Regions from separate parts of the Homo sapiens genome. Here region 2 is linked to region 1. Evidence: fine-mapped expression QTL. A gene starts in region 1. The other region holds a variant in brackets. All regions are shown on one strand. Distances are between the middles of the regions.

The links. PIP is the estimated chance that this variant, and not a neighbour inherited with it, causes the effect.
Region 2: its variant is fine-mapped to the expression of GPR18 in whole blood (TOPMed, PIP above 0.99).

What each region holds. Positions count from the first base shown.
Region 1 is chr13:99,252,415-99,263,263 of GRCh38, forward strand. GPR18 (G protein-coupled receptor 18) reads right to left here and starts at 5,965. Exons shown (of 2, transcript NM_001098200.2): 1 at 5,740-5,965; 2 at 2,325-3,492. The coding sequence starts at 3,458. The coding sequence ends at 2,463. All of the region lies in intron 4 of UBAC2 (UBA domain containing 2), which reads left to right. LOC124903198 (a long non-coding RNA gene) reads right to left here and starts at 9,290. Exons shown (of 3, transcript XR_007063846.1): 1 at 9,209-9,290; 2 at 7,725-7,834; 3 at 6,025-6,172. RefSeq lists a silencer at 9,885-10,107.
Region 2 is chr13:99,277,616-99,288,464 of GRCh38, forward strand. All of the region lies in intron 4 of UBAC2 (UBA domain containing 2), which reads left to right. Among named protein-coding and RNA genes, the nearest start is that of GPR183, 24 kb to the right of the region's middle. The variant T/TG (reference allele first, on the strand shown) is at 4,610.

The DNA of each region.
Region 1 (10,849 bases):
AAGACTGTAAGGGAAGGCCTTTGAACCACAGACCTGTTCATTTCTTTTTCTAGTGCTTTGCTTAGAAATTGTAGCTGACATGATAGATGCTCATGACTATGATTTAAACTCAGAAAATGTAACCATTAGGTTTTGAAAGTAGAAATAACTCCATTATTAAAAGCCATATGTGTTAGGCATTTCTAGTAACTCATTCCTGCCACACATCTGGCCTTATATACCTATTATTTTTTGTTAGTATTTATATGTGGATGTTACATCGTTTTCCAGAATACAGTGAAATTTTGAATTTTTACATATTATGTTTAAATGTATTTGGTTATAATGCTAAGTAAATTATTTAAAAAATAACTTTTAAGTGATCTACAATTAAATTATAATTTAAATTATTTACAGTTTTACTGTGAGAATCACAGCATACATTTTCACTTTCTTGATTTTGTATCAATAGAATCTTTTGTTGTGCTTTTTGCTCTGAGACTAAACTCTTCTTATCAAGACAAGCTATGGCAGAGAACTTTTCCATCTAATAAATTTAAGAGTAGATTCATCTGTATGGTTGAGAGTAGGCTCTGACTATGTATATGTGTATAATAAACCTACATATCCAATACAAGAGTTGTTTTTCTTGTTTTAGAAATAATTATATGTTAAATATATGTAAGATATACAAATAATATATAAAGATATAATATCTATAAAGGTACTTTATGTATATAAAATATAAAAATATATATATTTTACTCATTTGACTATTGAAACTAAAAACTGTGTTTTTCTCTTTATTGAGAAACTGCATCTCAGTACCACCTTATGTAGCTCTGAGAATGTTTACATTCTTTAAGCATGTTTGCTTTTTATTATTGAAAAATTGGTGTTTGACATGAAAGAACTGACCTTGGTTTCTAGGTGTGGTTCTTGAGCTGAGCAAGTCACATAACCTCTTCAGACCTCAGTTTTTTATATTTCGAACAGAAGAATTGTACTAAGAAGATTGTCTAAGGGACCTTCTAGTGCAAAAATGCCATTTTATTATTAGACTTTTTGTGTTTATCTTTTTTTTTAAGGAATATGAATTTACCTATGTTATTTCCAGAAATTAATTTCTTTTTTTTTTGAGACGGAGTCTCGCTTTGTCACCCAGGCTGGAGTGCAATGGCGCAATCTCGGCTCACTGCAGCCTCCGCCTCCTGGGTTCAAGCTATTCTCCTGCCTCAGCTTCCCGAGTAGCTGGGATTACAGGAACCTGCCATCATGCCTGGCTAATTTTTGTATTTTTAGTAGAGATGAGGTTTCACCATATTGGCCAGGCTGGTCTCGAACTCCTGACCTCAAGTGATCCGTCCACCTCAGCCTCCCAAAGTGCTGGGATTACAGGCGTGAGCCACCACGCCCAGCCAGAAATAAATTTCTAACCAATGCATGTATTTGGTTCTAAGCCCCAGTAGGATATGATCATGTTAAGAGTGATAAAGGTAATTTAGCAGAGAGGAAGTTATAGTTGAATCATTTATTTTACTTCCATAAGTATTCAGGATAATAGGGGCTTTACAGATTATAGTTCAGTTTTTTTCTTTTAGATGGATAAGTTACTTGGTTTGTTACTTTATTAGGAGAAATTAAATGGCAAGGCTAAGAAATCCAAGGTTCCTACTAGTACTATTTATACTGTGACATATGGCCTGGGAAAAAAAATCAATTAACTTCTTTTGTAAAAATGGTATCTTCAACCACATAAGAAGAGCAAACTGTTTGTATTGGAGAATGGCATTTCACCATATAGTAGAAACCTCAAATGATAGAAATGAACTTGGATTATTGGATAGAAATAGCATCTCAGGTTAGATTTTCATCATTAGTCCTAAATAGGGTTTGGTGCATAGTAGGCTCTCAGTGTTTGTTGAATGACTATTCTCTGTTTTTAAAAGAATGAATTCAGAGTAGGGAAGGGCTGATGGGGATGGCTGTAACAGGCCCCTTGGGTTCTTGTTGCTATTAATTTTGCCTTGTAGTAAGTAACAGTAATGAGTTCAACATAATTTCTTATATAGGAATTCTGGAAGTCAGTGTTTGGGACATAAAGTATTGGATTTATAATTCCATTCCTAGTGCAAATTAGACCTAAGGGAGCTGCATCTAGATAGAAAATAATTTAATCAAATTATTTTGTATGGTAGCTCGATTTCCCCCCTACTGACTTGATTAACACACATGTGTCGCTTGCACATAGAAATGCAAAAAGTTAATTATCTGTGTGAACAAGGCTTGACTAGGAAAGAAAAATCAGATGCTTTTCTCTGAATAATTCACAAAAATGTTTTATATAAGTTTTTAAAATGAAGATAATGAATTTATTTTTTCAAGAGAAAAGGGACTTGATAGTATTATACAGAATATCCATTGACGCCAGAGTAGTTAGTGAAGTGAATTTTGATGGGATTGAAATGAAAGAACCTTATTATTCATAACATTTCACTGTTTATATTGCTTAGTGACCGTAGACTACCAGATCGGAAACTTTTTCTGCGCATGCTTCGAAGGTAATTACGGTATAGCATGACACTAATGACTCGAGCCTGAAATTGTTTTGAAACGATGTAGTAGAGAATCACATCCAGACACGTGCTGAGGTTCATGAGGAAGGTGGTAAAGGCTCCCCAGGGATTGTAACTGTTCTCCCCCGTTCCCAGCATCAGGAAAGCGAAACAGATGTGGAAGGGCATAAAGCAGACGAGCACCTGCACCAGCAGCGTGATGATGATCCTTATGGACTTCTCCTTGACTTTGGGTTTCAGCTTAGACGTCCTGCCGTGAAGGAGATTATGAATAATGACCAAGTAGCACCCAATCATGATGAACAAAGGAATCAAGAAAAAAAATGTCAGTCGAGTGAGGTTCAGCACGTTCACAGCTTTTAGATAGATGATGTCAGAAATCTTGAGGCAGGTGGCGGGAGTGGAGTCTTTATCTGGGTCTTTATAGAGCAGTAGCAGAGGGGTGGTCGTGGTCAGGGTCATTATCCAGACTCCCACACACGCCAGCACGGCTTTGCACGTGTTTTTAAGTTCTTTGGCGTACTTCGGCTGTACAATGGCCATGTATCTGTCAGCACTAATAAAGGCAAGAAGCCATAAAGCAATGCTTGGGTAAAACACTGTGAGAGCTCCAAGAATCTGGCAGAAGTACTCTCCAAATGGCCATTCATCTTTTGCATAATAAAACATTCGAAAGGGTAAAGTCATTATAAATATCAAGTCCACTAATGCCACATTCATCATATAGATGGTTACCGTGGTTCTCTTCTTGGTGGTACAACTGAAAACCCATAATGCAGTGATGTTAACAAATAATCCAATTATGAAGATACAGCTATAGAAGACAAGGGCTGCAATTTTGTATTCATCTGGATGTGAGCTGTTAAAAGGGACAGGTTGATCTTGATTGTTCAGGGTGATCATTTTACAGCTTGTTGGTAGGCATGATACTTAGAAACTGTAAAAATAGTTAAGAAAAATAAGAATAAAATCGTTGGTTAAAAAATAAATGCTTAACATTCTCCCACTCAGCTTGACTGCCAGTGAATTTTAAGTTCGAGAGCATTTAATCAAGGAACGATTCAACTGGTTAACTACTGAACATTCACAGTAATTCTCATTTGAGAGAGAATGGGAACTTTTCCTTTGTTACAGCTATAGCCCCACTGTCTATTGAGCATGTAATAGGTACTCAATAAATAAATATTTACTGAATTGATGAATAAATGAAGGAACTTTTGATGAGATGATTCACAGCAACTCTACTTTGCTAAAAAACTCTAGTTTGTAATTCTCTAGTTTGAAAATGAAGACTTGTGTAGCTGGCTATTAAACTTTTTGTTTTTTTTAAAGTGGAAACACTTCATAATATTTATTACCTTATGTTCTCTTTAAATTATCATAGGTTGAGAAACAGCAATGTTTTGTGTCATGGTCAGCAGATCAAGAACTAGACTGTTAGAGCAATAGATGAGCTGTTTTCTAGTGCACAATTGGGAGTACGTAAAGCCAAGTCTTCCAGGTTTTGTGATTTCAGCTGCTCTACTTCAGTGGTTCACAGAAAGCAGCACCTTGAAAAAAGCTAGTGCCGTTAGTAACTTTCATATCCTCATTCCATCTAGATTCAGAAGCTTCAATATTATTTAAATTTTAACAATTTTCAAAGTAAATCCAAAAAAGGAGTATCTAAGACAAGTAGATATTAATAAGAAGTCATTCAGTAACTTGATGTGTATGTAGAAACTTATAAATTTCCATCACCAAAAAAAAAAAAACCGTCCATTTTAAATGGAAAGGAGGTTATTTGGGGTTGCAAATATCATTGACTCCTCAGTGTGAAACTTCATTCCCCCATGATGCAACACCAACAACAGACTTCAAAAATAGACTTTGCTGCAATGAGATGGAATCTGTGGCATCCCCTTGTAATATGGAGGTGGATGAAAAGTTTCCTTCAAAAATGTCACTTTGCAGAGTGGGCTGTCTTGAAATCAGCCCAGAATTTCTCTTTAAGGAAAACTATGGGGGAGATTTGCTGTCTGTGGTCAGTGGCATCACGGGCTATTGATAATTAAGAATTAACTTGAGCAATTGCTGTGGTTAAACACAAGAAACGTGCCTGTCTGCCTTCCTTCCTTTCCCTTCCCTTCCCTTCCCTTTCTTCCCTTCTTCTCCTTCTTTCCTTCTCAAATATTTAGGTTAAATATGATTTAGGAGCATAATTCTATATATTTAAAAACATATTAAATTTTCCAAATATTGGTGTGACTAGAATATTAATTTCTATCAAATGAGGAAAGTGCTACAGAGAAAAATTATATCTCTAGTGTCATTCAAAGGAGAGTAATCTTGGAGGCTTAAATCTTATTTTTAACTGGAATGCATTCTTATTAAATAGTAGCAATTATAATATAAATGAAATTTTGTATTTGTTTTTCTTTTTTTAGTATTGCATCAGGACTCCCTTCACCTATCCTCATCCTTCAATTTTGTGACATAAGTCCTGTACTTACAAACCATCTTGAGTCTTTTTTCCCACGTTATGCTCAAGCTGTTTTTATGTAGCTTGTCACCAATACTTATATTCATTTGCTGACGTTTGAAAAAAAATGAGTGATGCATGTGTTTTAAAGGCATTATAGTATTGATTGTGCTCTGCAAACACAGAAATTTTTGGATAAATATTGAAAAGTGATTGACTTTAAAGTCAGCTTTTTAAAAGCTATAGATACCATGATTATCTGTAGCTTTTCTTTTCTTAAAAACCATTAAGTTATTTCATGAAACAATGTAATTGAAAACATGTGATGAACATTCCTAAATATACATATGATTTACCATAAACATTTTCTTTCCTTAAGTTGAAAAAAATTACATTTAGTATTAATGTAAAGCAATATTGAAAATAAATGTAAAATCATATTAATGTGGAAAGATGATTATATAGCCTATTTCAAGGTCTTTCACCAACATAGTTTGTTATGTTTATTTTTTTAATTAAATATATTTTTTTAATAGAGACGGGGTCTCACTATGGTGCTCCTGGGCACAACTGATCCTCCTGCCTTGGCCTCCCAAAGTGTTGGAGTTACAGGCGTGGGCCATTGCGCCCAGCCTGTATTATTAAAATGAAATGATTTTTGAAATGCAGTACATAAAGCATTACTTTTGACAATAATCATGAAGTTAATTAAATGCTGCTTACCTCCTGTCCATCAAAAGTCTGTGTGAGAGATGAGCATTTTTCAGCACTTCCACTTCTGTCGAAGGGATATCTTTGAGTTGCTTCTGTTAAAATAGCTCTTTCTGGAAACAGTGTATTTAAGAAATGTTGTATTTTGTTTTAGACTCTTTTGTTGCTTTAAAAAGTAGTTTCCAGTGTAACGCTTGGCGTCGGAGTTGGTGCTGGGCTGACTTTAATTGCTGCTTTGTCTCTTTCAGGAAGTGCTCTCTGAAATAGGCTTTTTCACCTTATGACTTTACCCTGGATGTGGTTTTTCTCTTTCACAAATGATTTGTTTATGAAGTCACACTTAGCATAAGCTCCCCTTGAAATGATGGCATATATTTAAGATAATTATATACAAAGGATAAAGTTTCTTCAGTTTGTGTACTTTGATGCTTGAAGTCTGCATCATCTATGGAAAGAGAAGATTTGATATTGAGTAAAAGGGGGTTTAAAGTCTAGCTTCTTTGCTTTATAAGCTATGTGACTTTGTCTAGTTACCTACCCACTCTGACTAACCCTTTGTTCCTACTTCATTTCTGTACAGTTGAAATAGAGATAATACTATATCCAGTAGGATTGTAGGGGCCCTAAACCAGAAAGATCCCAAGTGCTTAATAGTACCTGGCACTTAGTAGGTACTCCTAAATGGAGTCTCACTTTTTACTACCAAGTTATTAAAAATCATAGAATATCCACATTTCCACTTTTTACTATTTAAACATTTCTAAATGCTTAAAAGTAGGATCCTTGATTAATTGCTTCTGCTTTGCCACATACATTTATCCACTTTAGTTTGCTGTATTTTGTAAGTCTGCTTTTCTAGTGCGTGGAAGTCTAGAAATAATTTCTTTTGCATAAAAATTTCTGCAAATCTTAGCAGAAAGGACTCTGAAGTCTTTAGTGGACTGATTTACATATTAAGAGTGTTTTCACCTAAGAAGGGAAATGAAACCAGCAGAAAGGGAAGTGAGCAACGAATCGCTGCCTGCCTTGTTAGGTTAATTTTGTTTTACTTTCTCATTTCTTAAAAAAAATTATCTCTCATTTGCTTATCCTAAAATTTTAATTATCTTTATGTTTGGTTATGCATGGTTTGTCAACTTTTTAAAGGGTTCATGAACTTAAATGTATTTGTTTTTTTGAATTTTAGACAGTTTGGGGTCCATCCTTTTTTTTTTTTTTCTCAGACAAAACCATAGTAAATCTGTGGCTTAGAAAAGTTACTTAAATCCTTGCCTTTGGTGATAAAATACTTTTGATTGTTACAACCTGCCAGAATGATGGGTTTTAGAAGTGTTGGAGACAACCATAGCAACTATTTCTTGTGTGGATGAAGAAATTGAAGGCCAGTTACTTGCTTAAGAACTCAAGGTAAAGCCAGGTCCAGTTTCTCCCGCTGTAATAACTTCTTATGAGGTAATTATATTGATCTGTCCACTAGATAGGACTTCTTATGGCTGAATCACATTCATCAGTTTTTTATATGTGATGTTATATTTCATTCATCACACAGGAGTTTGATGTTTCAGCTGGACAGAAATCTGCCTGCATGCAGACCTAATCTGTCCTTTGCCTTATTCACATAGCTTAGGACTTTTCTAAAATTAAGTATTGATTAGCTTCCCCATTGCTGCTAAAATCAACAGATACATTGATGGCATGTGTCTAGAAGAGTCCTTTCATCAAGACTTGAATTCTTCACGGTGCACAGGGGCATTCTTGTTTCTGAATTGCCAGACTCTTAGAGGAGGCATCCAGGAGCACCTGAGGGCTCTCCATAGGCCTGGCTTCAGGTTGGGGTGAGCTCTCACTTTTTCCTCATCTTGCTCTCCATTCCAGCCCTCTGGACTGGCTACATTTGCTCTTCCTGCCTCTCACATGCTGTTCCACCCACTGTGGCATTCCTCACCACTGTCTCCCACCTGATGGCATGGCCTGCTGCTCTTTGTTCTTGTAGCTACCTTTTTCAGGAAGCTTTCTCTGCCATCCGAAGCTGGGCTGGTTTCTCTGCCCTCCGAAGCTGGGCTGGTTGTTCATCCCTGCAGGTTTCCTTAGCACTTGGTACCTATCCCTGTAGTGGCACATGTTTGCATTGTTACTGCATATTTACTTGCTTTTTCTCCTCCACTAAATTGCATTCCTTGAGAGTTGGCATGTGTTGCATATGTGTGTAGAGAAGAGGCATTTAATATTGGTTGAATTTCTGACTGAACAAGTAGGTGAAGAAATGGAGAGGTTGGGGGAGGAATGGATAAATGTCTGGGCCTTGAGTCAGCAGGCAGGGACACTTTGACCAGCTTATGAGATGGGGAGACTTAGGCAAGGGCCTGAGGTCTGTCGTCCTCCCCTGCAACCCATGAGCCCTATAGCATTGACCCCCGTTCGCTGTGCTCCTGGATCTTCGCGATGGTTTTGTGTTGGCAGGGAATTATAGTGAAAAGAAACTGCCCAGTCATTTGACAGCAAGTAAACAATGGGTCAAGGATTCAACTTGTATAATGTAGACACAAGTTTCTTTAATACTTGAACCTAATGAATTTTTTTTTTTCCCCAAACAGAGGAACTTATTCAGGGACCATTCATGCAGCTTTAATTTCTTCACTTACTTTGGAATATGAGTGAAGGAGAAATGTTTCACTTGCAAAAGAGGGATTTTACTTATTCCCAGAGACTGCAAGATTCCCTTTGCTTTATCAAATAGTGTGTTTTAGCTGCAGTTTTGGGTTTTGGTTTTGATATTAAAAGCCATAAGTGAATTTTGATTTTAGCCCTATAAACCAGTTTTTGAGTGAATATAATTCAGTTAAGCCAGTTTTTAATGAGAAAGAATGTAGTTAATAGATCTGTATAGCAAATTCCCACTATAAAATATGCTTCTATGTTAGACATTTGTCTATGCCACAGGTAAAATAATATTTCCTGTTCTGTTAGCATAGCAAGTGTGAGGGCAGCTTATCCTTGTTGCCTCCCATCAGTGCGGGGACCAGGGGTCCACTGTTGTTACTGTTCATGTATCCCAGCAGGGGGACAGTCAGCACACAGCCAGTCCCCAGGGAGAAGAGGGTGTGAGGCAGACAAAGAGTCCTCTGAACTAGAGGAGAGGCCTATCCTTTGGCCTTGACATCCTCCAACCTTTGTCCCCTCCTTTCTGTTTCTCAAACTTGTATCTAAACTGACTGCTCTTTGGGTGTGGGTGTAGGGGAGATATGTTGAATAGTAAGAGTTTCTGCATAAAGAAGATTGAGAAACTATTTGTCTAAATGTGTGGTTTTTCTTAAGTCCCAACAATTTACAGCTATAATCTTCTAACCCAGTTAGTATACCTCCTTTCTGTTTGGTTTCCTAAATTGTATTGTAAATTTAATATTCCCAAATTTCTTGTCTTTAGCAATTTTTGTGTGTAGTTTTAAAGATGTATAGACATGTAGACATTCAGACACTTAACCTCACAGCAAACAAGTTGAATCCATATCTAACCATATATAAGTGATGGCAGTGAAATCAGTCCTGGAACCACTGAAGTCCCATGGGACCCCAGGCCCAGAGTTTGCAGTGTGACATTTTACTATTGGAAGAGAGATCCAGAGTCGCCAAGGCAGCAGATTGAGCAGAACTCCATGGTTATTGTGAGGCACACAGCCTTCTGCTGCACATTCTGATCTCACAGTTACCAGAGGTGCAAATGGAGATGGGTATACAGTAGTCCCCTTATCCGCAATTTTGCTGTCTGAGGCTTCAGTTACCTTCAGTTACCTTCAGTCAAATATGGTCTGAAAATATTAAATGGAAAAATTCCAGAAATAAACAATTCATAAGTTTTCTGTTGCATGCCATTCTGAGCAGCAGGATGAAATCTCTCACTGTCCCGCTCCTTCCTCCCCAGGACATGAGTCCTCCCTTTGCCCAGTGTCTCCACACTGTAGACATTCCCACTCATTAGTCACTTTCATAGCCACCTTGGTGATCAGGTTTACTGTCACAGTGTCACAGTGCTTGTGTTCCAGTAACCCTTATTTAATTAATAATGGTCCCAAAACACAAAGGTACTGAGCCTAATGTATAAGTTAAACTTTATCATAGGTATGTATGTACAGGAAAAAAATAGTAAGTATAGGGTTTGGTACTATCTGCAGTTTCAGGCATCCACTGGGGGTCTTGGAATGTATCCTCTGAGAATAAGGGGGAACCACTGTATAGTTAACACCTAGTAATATGAGGAAGTGCATTTCAGAAGAAAGAGGAGGGCTGGGCACGGTGGCTCATGCCTGTAATCCCAGCACTTTGGGAGGCTGAGGCGGGTGGATCACCTGAGGTCAGGAGTTCGAGACTAGCCTGGCCAACATGGCAAAACCCTGTCTCTACTAAAAATACAAAAATTAGCTGGGCATGGTGGTGCGTGCCTATAATCCCAGCTACTCAGGAGGCTGAGGCAGGAGAATCGCTTGAACCCGGGAGATGGAGGTTGCAGTGAGCCAAGAATGCAGTGAGCTGAGGCTGAACTCCAGCCTGGGCAACAGAGCAGAACTCCCTCTCAAAAAAAAAAAAAAAAAAAAAAAAAAAAAAGGACTTGTGGAAGGTAAAGGAACAAGAGATGTGTTATCAGGTTATTTAAACATAAACCTATATAATAGTGTGTGTGGTTGAGGATTTTAGTACACAGCCATTTGTATAGTAAAAGTAAACATGTATCTATAAGGTTGAGGGTTGTTGGTTTAAGACAAGTTACTTAGGATTTTTTATTATATCTGCCATTATTCTTAACTAAATTATGAAAGGTAATCAGAGGTGACTGTCAGGCATGATTCTGAGAGCCTCACATGCTTGAGCTAACTTAACCTTCATGCTGACTGCAAAGTATGTAGTTTACATGGTGTGACCCAGAAATATTTACTCATGACTCTCAGATTGTATGTTCTTTCTGTATTTTGCATTATAATATTATACTTCGTTTTAGTAATTTTTGTTGAAGTTGGCCCTACTTAATAGAGAATCATCATAAATGGTAATTTGACTTATAGCAAACAATCTCCTGAGGGAATAGACCATCTTTTTATCTCCCTGTTTCTTGCTAATGAGTTGATATTCT
Region 2 (10,849 bases), 25 kb after region 1:
TTTTCTCCATTGATAGTTACCTCTACAATCATTCAGACATTTTATTAAGGCCATTTTACATTGTGTCATCCTCCAGCATCACTCTCTTACTTGAAATAAAATAGGCCTTGTAATCACTGTGCTCTATTGTCTCACTTTCTGGGCCTACTTACTGGGGCTTTGAGTATTTCAGGCACTCTTGCCCCATCCCCTCTGTCACCACCCGCAAGCCTCATCAAGCCTCTAATCTGGAGGTGGGTGGTGGTAAATGAGCAAGAGGGAACTTGCTTAGTCTCGGGATCCATCTGTAGGAACATAACGTTCTTCTAATATCTGCAGATACCCAGTTTCTGCAGGATAAATTTCCTCATGGTCTCCCCATAGAAGGGCCTTTCCTGCTGTTCTCGATGAGCAGATTAATGTAGGGCACAGGTCTTACCTTCTCCATGTTTTCCAGTTCTGCCTCTTGCATTGCACAGGATAAAGCTTTCCAGGACTAGGCACAGATAATTTCGGAAGCTAAGAAATAGCTGTGATGGTGACACCAACATTATTCTGTGGATTAATTTGGTTATTTAGACCTATTTAAAAGAATCCATTATAGGTATTTTATGTAATATTTTTCTTAAATTTGTAGTCCTGTGTGTGGCTTTCATTTGGGCTATGCTATTATTAATTAACTGTTACCACATTATTAATACATGTGGCAATAGAGTTGGTACCAGGCAGTGGTATTCACTTTCTCGGGCGCGTGAAGGGATTGCCTGTCTGGAGGTGAGGGCTAGTCAGAGAGTAGCAGCACACCTACAATCATCTGTGGTCATCTCGAATTGCAACCGTTGGAGTATTTTTAAGGGAAGTGGGTATTGTGGGCAAAGTTAGCAATAAGTGACAGTTAGCTTTCTAAATTATTGTGTCTCTGCTTTGAATTTGGGCTAAATAGCCAACATATAAATAATCATCATAGCTTGAAAAATGATCAGTGTCTTTAAAAGTGAAAAAAAGTGATATTTCTCAACCTAAAAATAGGACTACCTGGATCTCCAAATTTGAAGCGATCACATTAACATGTTTGGAATAATAGATTAGATAAGTTGAATGGATAGATATTTTAGATATCTTCTCTCCTTTAATTCCTATTTAAAAAATAAACTTTGTTGATAGGGTTATATCTGTTTTACTGGTACGAAAACATTTTTAGAGAGACTAAGAAATCTGTCCAGGAACATATAACTCAGTTGAAATTTTAACCTACATCACTTGAATCTAAAACCGCCATGCCTCCAAGTCAAGGTAAAGCAACAGAAACTGTCAGGCTTATGGTTCCTCATGATCATCAGTTTGCAGAGAATTATATTTCTGAGTATTGATTATAACAAATGTGTGTGAATGTTGACTTTCCTTCATGAGTTACTCAGTATTTATACTGAGAAAAGTAGACTTTAGTCTGCTGTTGTGTAGCCAAAGCCTTTGGATTTTAAGCTGTTCCCTTTCTCCTTCCTTTTCCCACCTCCCTCTCGGCTTGCCACCTCTTTTCTCCTTTTCCCCCTTTTCTTACCCCTTTATCTCCCCTGCTTTTGCACTGATCCCCACTCCTCTTCCCCTCCCAACAGTACCTACTGGTTTGGTTAGCCCTACCGGGGATTTTAGTAAATAAATACTTAAATGCTTGAATGTGATTGCACAGAGCAAAGTTGACTAATAAAAAGTTGATCAAAATTTGTATCTAGAATGAAGGATGTGAGAGAATAAACTGCCACCATTCAAGTGTTTCAAGAGAAGCTTAAAGGTAATTTTTTGCAGAAGCTGTCTTTGACTACCCCCACCCTCAGACTAGGTCACAGTCTCTTGTGATATGCTTTCTTAGAACATTTTTCTTTCTTATAGCACTCATCACTATAGATAGTAAATAAGATGTAACAAATGATTTGATACCTGCCACCTCCACTAGAATACAGACTTTGTGCCAGGAGGAGACTGTGTTAGTTTGTCTCACTAATGATGCCTCACTGCCTTAGCCTGTTCAGGCTCCTCTAACAAAATGCCCTAGACTGTGTGACTTATAAACAACCGAAATTTATTTCTCACAGTTCTGGAGGCTGAGAAGTCCAGGATCAAGGCACTGGCAGATTTGGTGTTTGGGGCTGTCTTTTCGTGGTGTCCTCACATGGCAGAAAGCAGAGAGTTCAATGGGTTCCCTTTTATAAGGGCACTAATCCTATTTGTGAAGACTCTACCCTCATGACCTAATCACCACTCAAAAGCCCCACCTCCTAAGAGCATCACACTGGGGGTTAGGATTTTAACATGTGAATTTGGAGAGGACAGAAACATTCAGTTGATAGCACTTGGTTAGCATAGTGGCTCCCACATAGTGGACACAACTGTGAGATGGATGGATTGATAGAGCAAATAGATTAATGAAAAGTATTTGATCTTTTGATTTCATCTCCTTTGGTTTGGACTATTGCTGTAGCCTCCTAACTGTTCTCCCTGTCACCATCTCAATGCCATCATCTGCACTGCCCCACTCCCCTAATTTTATCTACAAAGGAGATCTGGTCTTATTCCTTTACACCTTGAGAAATCTCCTATGGCTTCCTCCTGCTGTTTTATAAAGTTTAACTTGCTTGTGACACACCTCAGAGCTCCAGCCAATCTTCCCAGCCTCATTTTCTGTCATTCCTTCCTTGTACTCTGCATGTCAGCTAAATTGCATTACTCACTACTGCCTGTCACGCATACATCATTACAGATTTCTCTGGATTCATTTATTACGACAATTGTGGTTACAACATCCCTTCTCCCCTTTGCTTGACAAACTTCTACCAAGAAAACAAGGAGAACTTCAAGTGTCCCCTTGGGTAGCTCTGCTCCACGAAACCCTGCTCCAGCCAGAGTTGGAATTAACCTCTCCTTCCTTCTTGCTCCCAGTTAACTTTGTGCTTGTAAGTTATGTGAAACATTCATTACTTGAGATGGTAATTATTTACCTAATTGACCACTCTCTCAACTGGATGCTTTTGAAAGAGCAGGATCTTACTCTCTCTTACAGCTCCCTCAGCATGGAGTAGTGAAGAGTGTTCTTTAATACCAAAGGGACAAAGAAAGCTGACTGGGATCGGTCTGCCACATGCTAGTTGCTTCAGTTATTTTTTTGCACTAAATTATTGTGTCTCTGCTAATGTCCTTTTTCCTTTCTTCCTTCCCTCCCTTCTTCCTTCCTTCTTCTTTCCCTCTCTCTCTCTCTCTCTCTCTCTTTCTCACTCAGTAAGCTACCTCAAATCTGTTACTTAAGAGAAAAATGTAGGCTGGGCGTGGTGGCTCACGCCTGTAATCCCATCACTTTGGGAGGCCGAGGCAGGCAGATCACTTGAGGTCAGGAGTTTGAGACCAGCGTGGCCAACATAGTGAAACTCCATCTCTGCTAAAAATACAAAAATAAGCCAGGTGTGTTGGCGGGCACCTGTAATCCCAGCTACTTGGGAGGCTGAGGCAGGAGAATAGCTTGAACCCAGGAGGCAGAGGAGGTTGCAGTGAGATGAGATCACACCATGGTACTCCAGCCTGGGTGACAGAGCGAGACTCCATCTCAAAAAAAACAAAACAAAACAAAACAAAAAAAAACAACAGCAACAACAAAAAAGTATAAAAGTTGAATTTCACATTTGGGTTCAGTGATTTTTTTTTTTAAGGATTGAAATGTGGACTTATAAAATCATTTCCAGCATCTTACCTAAGAGAGAAGCATATAATCCATTCATTCTTATATTCACAAGATATCTCCTTTCTCAACCAAAAAGTTCTCACACTTTGGGCTCAGTTCAGTATTTGGGTGTTGGATACCATGTGTCCGGCATTGTACTTGGTACTATGTCACCTTGGTAGTCAGCAAGCACACGCCAGGCTCATCCCAGACACTCTGCAGGTGTGCCACTTTCTCTCCTTAGAACAGCCCTGGAAGGTGAGAACTCGCATCTACTTTGAGGAAACAGGCTCAGAAACCTTCAGCGCTATTTTCTATAAATTGATAAAAGAAAAATCATGATGTTAGAAGATACATAACAAGAGGAAGAGGCTTTTCTTGTCTCACTTATGTCTTGACATTGCCTGAGGACTGATTAGGAACTGAGATTGCCAATCATTTTAACAAGATTTTAGTAATGTTTGAAGATCTGTGCCTTCTGAATCAAAGTGGCGTGCAGAGGTACTTACCTTATGGATTGCTGGCTAATTGTGAAAGGAGACTCAGGCTTTTAACACTGCAGGAATTTCAAACTGCGGTCTCAGTGGCCAGAGTGTCTTACCAGGGAGCAGACCTAATGTATCCAGTTTAAAAGGGCGTGTAAGCTGTTGCCAGAAGTCTACATGAAGCCACATGATAAGTGATTTTGTATTTGAACATGAAGGGCAGTGGCATCATTGACCTAAGCTAGAGTTTCCTCACCCTCAGCACTTTTGACATTTTAGTTGCATAACCCTTTGCGGTGGGGGCGGTCCCGTGCACTGCAGGGTGGCTGGCAGCATCACTGGCCTCCACCCAGTGTATGCTGTTAGCAAAACCTCCTTTCCCCAGTCTTACCCCAGTCATGACAACTAAAAATGTCTCCAGATAATGCCAAATGACACT[T/TG]GGGGGGCAAAATCACCCATGATGGAGAGTCATGACATGCATGATGCTGGGTGGTAGATAGAACCCTGGAAAGAGTTAGCCCACACCCTTGAGGAGCTCATGACCTAGGAAGCTTGTTGAGAACTTTTGACTAGGTAGAATATTTCTAGTAGTTGACTGAAATAGCTTTGGTTGAGGCTATTAGTAAAAATTTGTTTTAAAGAGGTTTAACATCTGTTTTCATTTCTGCTTTTCTGAGTTGCTTTGCTGCTCAATTCCTTTTATTTTAGCTGTCTTCCTCTTGGGACTTCAAACATTTGAGTGTGTCAAAATTTCCAGTCTAATAGGAAATATGTTTTGTTCAAAAAGAAATAAAGATATTTATAACTGTTGGGCTAGAATGATGGAAGTTTAACGCTGGTTAAGTGAGACTCAGGTAACAGACAGCAAAGGAGATACTTTAATAGTGAAGGGAACTTGAAGTCTGGTTGTATTCAAGATTCACTTCCTGTTCTTGTTTATCACTGGAAAGTTGCACCTTGTGAAAGATTTTAGATTTAGATCATTGTATTGTTCTAAGAAAAAAAATTCAAAATGCTAACCATGTCTTGGTAACTATAGCAAAATATACAGCACACAAAAATAATCTCATACCTGTCTTAGGGTTGGATTTTTTGGTATATGTTATGTGTTGAGTTCTGAAATATCTAATGTGCTTGAAATCTAATGTGCTTTTGTTATCTGAACTAAAGGAAAAAGGCTTTGTCAGTTACAAGAGAATAGGCATCCCTGTTTTGGCTGGATTGTTAGTTGAAGTAATAGAATGAATTCTGGCTGATTCAGCAGAAAGGGAATTTATTAAAGTAGCTCAGAGAATATTTAGGAAGGCAAATAATCAGTCATGGGTACACCAGAGCTAGAATCAACACTTTACAGTTCTCTCTCCTAAAATTATTTTGTTTACTTACTTAATGTTTAATATTGGCTTCTAGGATGTAGGATTCAGAGAGCAACTTGGTCTGTGTGGTTTTCAGCTGTTATTCCAGTGTGTAGAATAGCAGCTGGTTCATAGAGACACTTGATAATTATTTGCTGTATAAATAAATGACAATACCAAGGATAGGTTTGTTAATATCAGTGACAATATGAAGGAAAAATATGGAGTAACATTATGAAATGTTAACATTACGCATTCCATTTGGAGATTTTTTTTTGACAGCAGGATTTACCCTTTCTCTTAAGAAATCTTAATAAATTTATATTGAACAATTTTGTACCGTAGAGCCTTGTTTGACATATGTTCCTGATTTAAATGAATAGCCAGATTTAAATGAATAGCCACAAGCAGACTTGCAAGAGTAGATGTTGCTATTGCTGTGTTCTACATGAGAAAGCTGAGGGTCTGAGGATTGAGTCACTAAGTGACGGCTACTTAAGTGGCAAGCCTGGATGGAAACTCATGCCTGTCTGAATTGTGGCTCAGACATTTCCTTAATGCCTTAATGCCACCTTTTTTTTTTTTTTTTTTTTTTTTTTTTTTTTTTTTTTTGAGACTGAGTCTTGCTCTTTTACCCAGGCCAGAGTGCAGTGGTGCTATCTCGGCTCACTGCAGCCTCTGCCTCCCGGGTTCAAGCTATTCTCCTGCCTCAGCCTCCTGAGTAGCTGAAATTACAGGCGTGTGCCACCACGCCCAGCTAATTTTTGTATTTTTAATAGAGACGGTGTTTCACCATGTAGGTCAGGCTGGTCTCAAACTCCTGACCTCGTGATCTGTCTGCCTTGGCCTCCCAAAGTGCTGGGATAACAGGCGTGAGCCACCACGCCTGGCCAATGCCACTTTATTTTTAAAGGTAAAACAGTCTAGTTAATGGTCACTATAGCAGGAAGCAACTTGAGCATTTTAACTTGCCAGACTGAGGCTGTGTATTTCAACTTTAGCAATGTAAATGTCCAAAGACAACTTATATGATTGTATTCAAACTTTGCTGCTAAAATAAGAAGTACAAATAAACACACAATGCAAAGAAAAAAAGTTCCAATTGGGGGGAAGTGCCCCCATGAATGGGGCCTGAAGAAGCACTATATGACACTCCAGTTATTTAGCTATTACTTGTATTTTCATTTAATAGACTGAAGAAACTGCTGTTTCTTTTCAGTAGCTACCAAATGCTGCCACTTATGTTTTATACTTTTTGAAAATTTTAAAATAGTTCTGGTTTATAGAAAAGTTGCAAGGATAAAACAAAGAACTCCCATATACCCTAAAACCAGATGCCCCCGTTATTAACATTTTCCGCATTTGCTGTTATCATTTTCTCTCTACACAGTATTTTTTCTGAATCATTTGAAAGCAAGTTGTAGACATAATGTCCCTTTGACTCCAAAATACCATGAGTATGTATTACTTTATTCACATCTGGCAATTGTCCAAATAATGTCCTTTATGGCAAAAAGGAAAATCAAAATTCTAGTCCATCGTCTGGTTCAGTATTACATGTTGCATTTCATTGGTACATCCCCTTACTGTTTAATCCGGACTGTTCCTCAGTCTGTCTTGGGCGACCTTGGCATTTTTGAAGACTGTAAGCCAGGACTTACAGAAAACGATACATATTCTAAGGCTGCTGGAAAATTAAAGTTTGTGAAGGTGAAGCAGTAGATGAAAATAATGTGTAGTTTTCGTATTTCTCTTGGAATAACATTTTATAACTTTTTCATGAAAAATTTCAGTGACACAAGCAGAGAGAATAAAATGAGCCCTATTACCCAGATTCAGTAATTAACATTTTTGCTATCCTCTTTCCATTCCCTGGCATTTTAAAAGTATTTTGAAGCAATTTCCAGACATCATAATATCATATTTCATATTTCAGAAAGCTCTAAAATGGCATTTCTTATATAACCATAATGTTACCTTACCTAACAAAATTATTCATAATTCTGTAATATTATTTACTACTGAAACTACTGTTTCCACATTTATCCTATTAGCTTGGAAATGCCCTTTTACATTTGCTTTTGCATTCGATTGTGGTGTGTCTTAAGTAGCTGCTGCTGCTGCTGCTGCTCCTCCTGCTCCTCCTCTTCCTCCTCTTCTTCCTCCCTTTGGTAGAGTATTTTTGTACTTTATTAGAATGGTATGGTGGGTATACTAGATTAACTGGCTCATTATTTATTATTACCTTTCTTCTTTTTTTTTTTTTTAAGAGACAATTGTCTTGCTCTGTCACCCAGGCTGGAGTGCAGTGGTGCGATTGTAGCTCACTGTAACGTCAAACTTCTGGGCTCAAGGGATCCTCCTGCCTTAGCCTCCTGAGTAGCTAGGACTACAGGCATGTGCCACCACGCCCAGCTAATTCTTAATTTTTTATAGAGACAACGTCTCGTTATGTTGCCCAGGCTGGTCTCAAACTCCTGGCCTCAAGTGACCCTCCTGCCTTGGCCTCCCAGAGTGTTGGGATTATAGGCATGAGCCACCATGCCCGGCCAGCTGGCTCATTATCTGTTCCAGGGTTCTCCTAGTGTACTTCCCATAAAGCAGAGGTTGGAAAGCTGAATGCTCTATTTCTTAAACTCCCTTGCCTGGAGTTCTGGATATGATTTAGGTTCCATTATTCAGAAAAACGTGTGGCTCTTGAATTCAGTATGAGCCAAGGCATATGAGATAGCCATTTTCCTGGTGCAGTTCTACACATCCAACGGGGTGCCAGAGTTCACAGTTCAACTCCCTGAAACTCCCTGATCCCTAGACTCTGCCAAAGTGGTTTGACCTTGGAGCTCACAGTTGATGTAATTAACTTTTGTGATTTCCCAGCTGCCTCAGTGTGTCAGAGGAAACAGTTCTCCTGGTAGACCAGTCCTTATGTGTTCCAGGAGTCTATTCCTGGAGGCGCTGGATCTGGCCTTCTAGCCTTTTCAGCAATTGTATAAGCACCGAATTCTGTGTACTAAATCTGCTGCCCAAAATAGCTGACAAGATTTCTGTTATCTATAACTGAACCTTGGCTGACAGAACTGCTAATCAAAAGAATGTAACATTTATATTTGACTTCAAATGTATATATACAAAGCAACATACCTGGATCTGAAACATTTAGATTTGAACTGGGACATAGTTCTTCCTTGTGGTCCTTTGTGTTAGGAGATCAAGTTCCTCAAAGAACATTGTGTGTGTGTTTATGAAGCCTTGCTGATCTTTTCATGTGGCTTTCTGGTATAACCTATTCTTTGCTGGTGACTTTGTTACCACCAGCCATCTCTTATTAGGACTTCTTTTTTTTAATATTTATTTATTTTTAATTTTTTTCCCACTTTTAGGTTCGGGGGGTACATATGCAGGTTTATTACATGGGTAAATTGTGTGTCACTCAGGCTTGGGGTACAAATGAGCCCATCACCCAGGTAGTGACCATAGTACCCCATATGTGGCTTTTCAACCTCCATCACCCCACACTCCCCCAACAAGCAGTCCCCAGTGTCTATTCTGTTGTTCCTATCTTCGTGTCCATGTGTATTCAATGTTTAGCTCCCACTTATACGTACAAACATGCAGAATTTAGTTTGCTGTTGCCACGTTATTCTTAGGACTCCTTGAAGGTCTGCTGAGACTCCCCTCACATGTAACCTTAGAATGTGGCCAGTGCGCGTCCCATTCTCCTATGATTTGAATTGCTGTGCTTAACTGATTGGAGATGGAGACTGGTAACTGTGTCTCAGTTCTTTCTGAATCCATCCCTGAATTTCTGCCTCTACCCCCGATGTAACAAGAGTAAGGGCATGTGTTAGAGAACATACTTACCATTTTTAGAAATTTATTACAGAAATTTTCAAATATACATAAATACAGAGAGAATGGTATAATGACTACCATGTACCCATCACCTTTTAATCATTTTTTCAAACACACAAACTTCAAATAATTTGACAGTTGGATCCCTAATGGGACACTGGTTTCCATTTTTCATTTTACCATGTGGTTCCTAAAATCTGCATGGTGTTAGCCTGCAGTGTCCCTCAACCCTGCCCTTGCCTCAGATTTGCCAGTATCTCTACGGGCCTCCCCAGAGGCCTGAGTGTCAGGTGCAGGCACAGGCAGGTACCAGGTTTCAAGTAGAGCTCATAGGAGATTGTTGGGACTGAGAACCAGGATTGCCTTGATCTCTTGTCACATGTGTATCAGGCCTGTGGGTCTGTTTTGATAATGTCGTCTTCTTAACTGCTGTTCTTTTTTTTTTAAATTTTGAGACAGGGTCTCACTCTCACCCAGGCTGAAGTGCAGTGGCACGATCATGACTAACTGCAGCCTTGACTTGCTGAGCTCAGGTGATTCTCCCACACCAGCCTCAGTTCTTTCTGAACCCATCCCTGAACTTCTGCCTCCACCCCATGTTGTAACAAGAGTAAGGAAAAATATCTTTCTTTCTTCTTTTTTTTTTCTTTCTTTTTTTTTTTTTTTTTTTTTGGTAGAGACGAGGTTTCGCCATGTTGCCCAGGCTGATCTCCAATTCCTGGGCTCAAGTGAGCCTCCTGTCTCAGCCTGCCAAAGTGCTGGGATTATAGGCGTGAGCCACCACGTGCAGCCTTAACTGCTGTTCTTTTAACAAACCAATAATGTTCAACTTTAGGACCTTCTTGCCCTTGCTCCCTTACTGGGGAAAATAATAAGCAATAATACATGAAATGGCACTTGCATATACTTTCATTACTCTCTTGAACATATAATATATGATATGCTAAAACATACTGTTTGCATTTATTTTTATAGGCTAATATAGGCAGTAACCTTATACATTTTTACTATGTAGCCCCTGCCAAAAAATTTGATACTTCATGCCAGGACTTGATGGGAAAATTGTGGGACTGCTGCCCTCAAGCAATAAGAACGTATCAAAATGTTACTTTTTTTAGATTAGGTCTCAAACCTTTTGTAGCCTCCATGTAGTTTCATTCTGACACACTTTTTTCTTCTCAAAATCTGCCTGGGAAAAGTCATTCTTGTACAGAAACCAGAAATAAATGTTTTAACACTCTGAGAAAATGGATAAAAGCCAATCAGAAAAGCACTTGAGTTCTTGTTTTGGATCAGTTGCAGTAGGTGCCATGTGGGGCAGAAAGTAACGTGGCCCCTGCTCTGGAGTGGTTTTCAGTTGAGTGGACAGGATGTCTAAGAGCATTACTAACTACGAGAAGCCACACAGTTAGCATGCAGATAGACAACAGCTTTAAAATTTTTGAGGAAGGTGAACTCTTGAAACAAAAAGG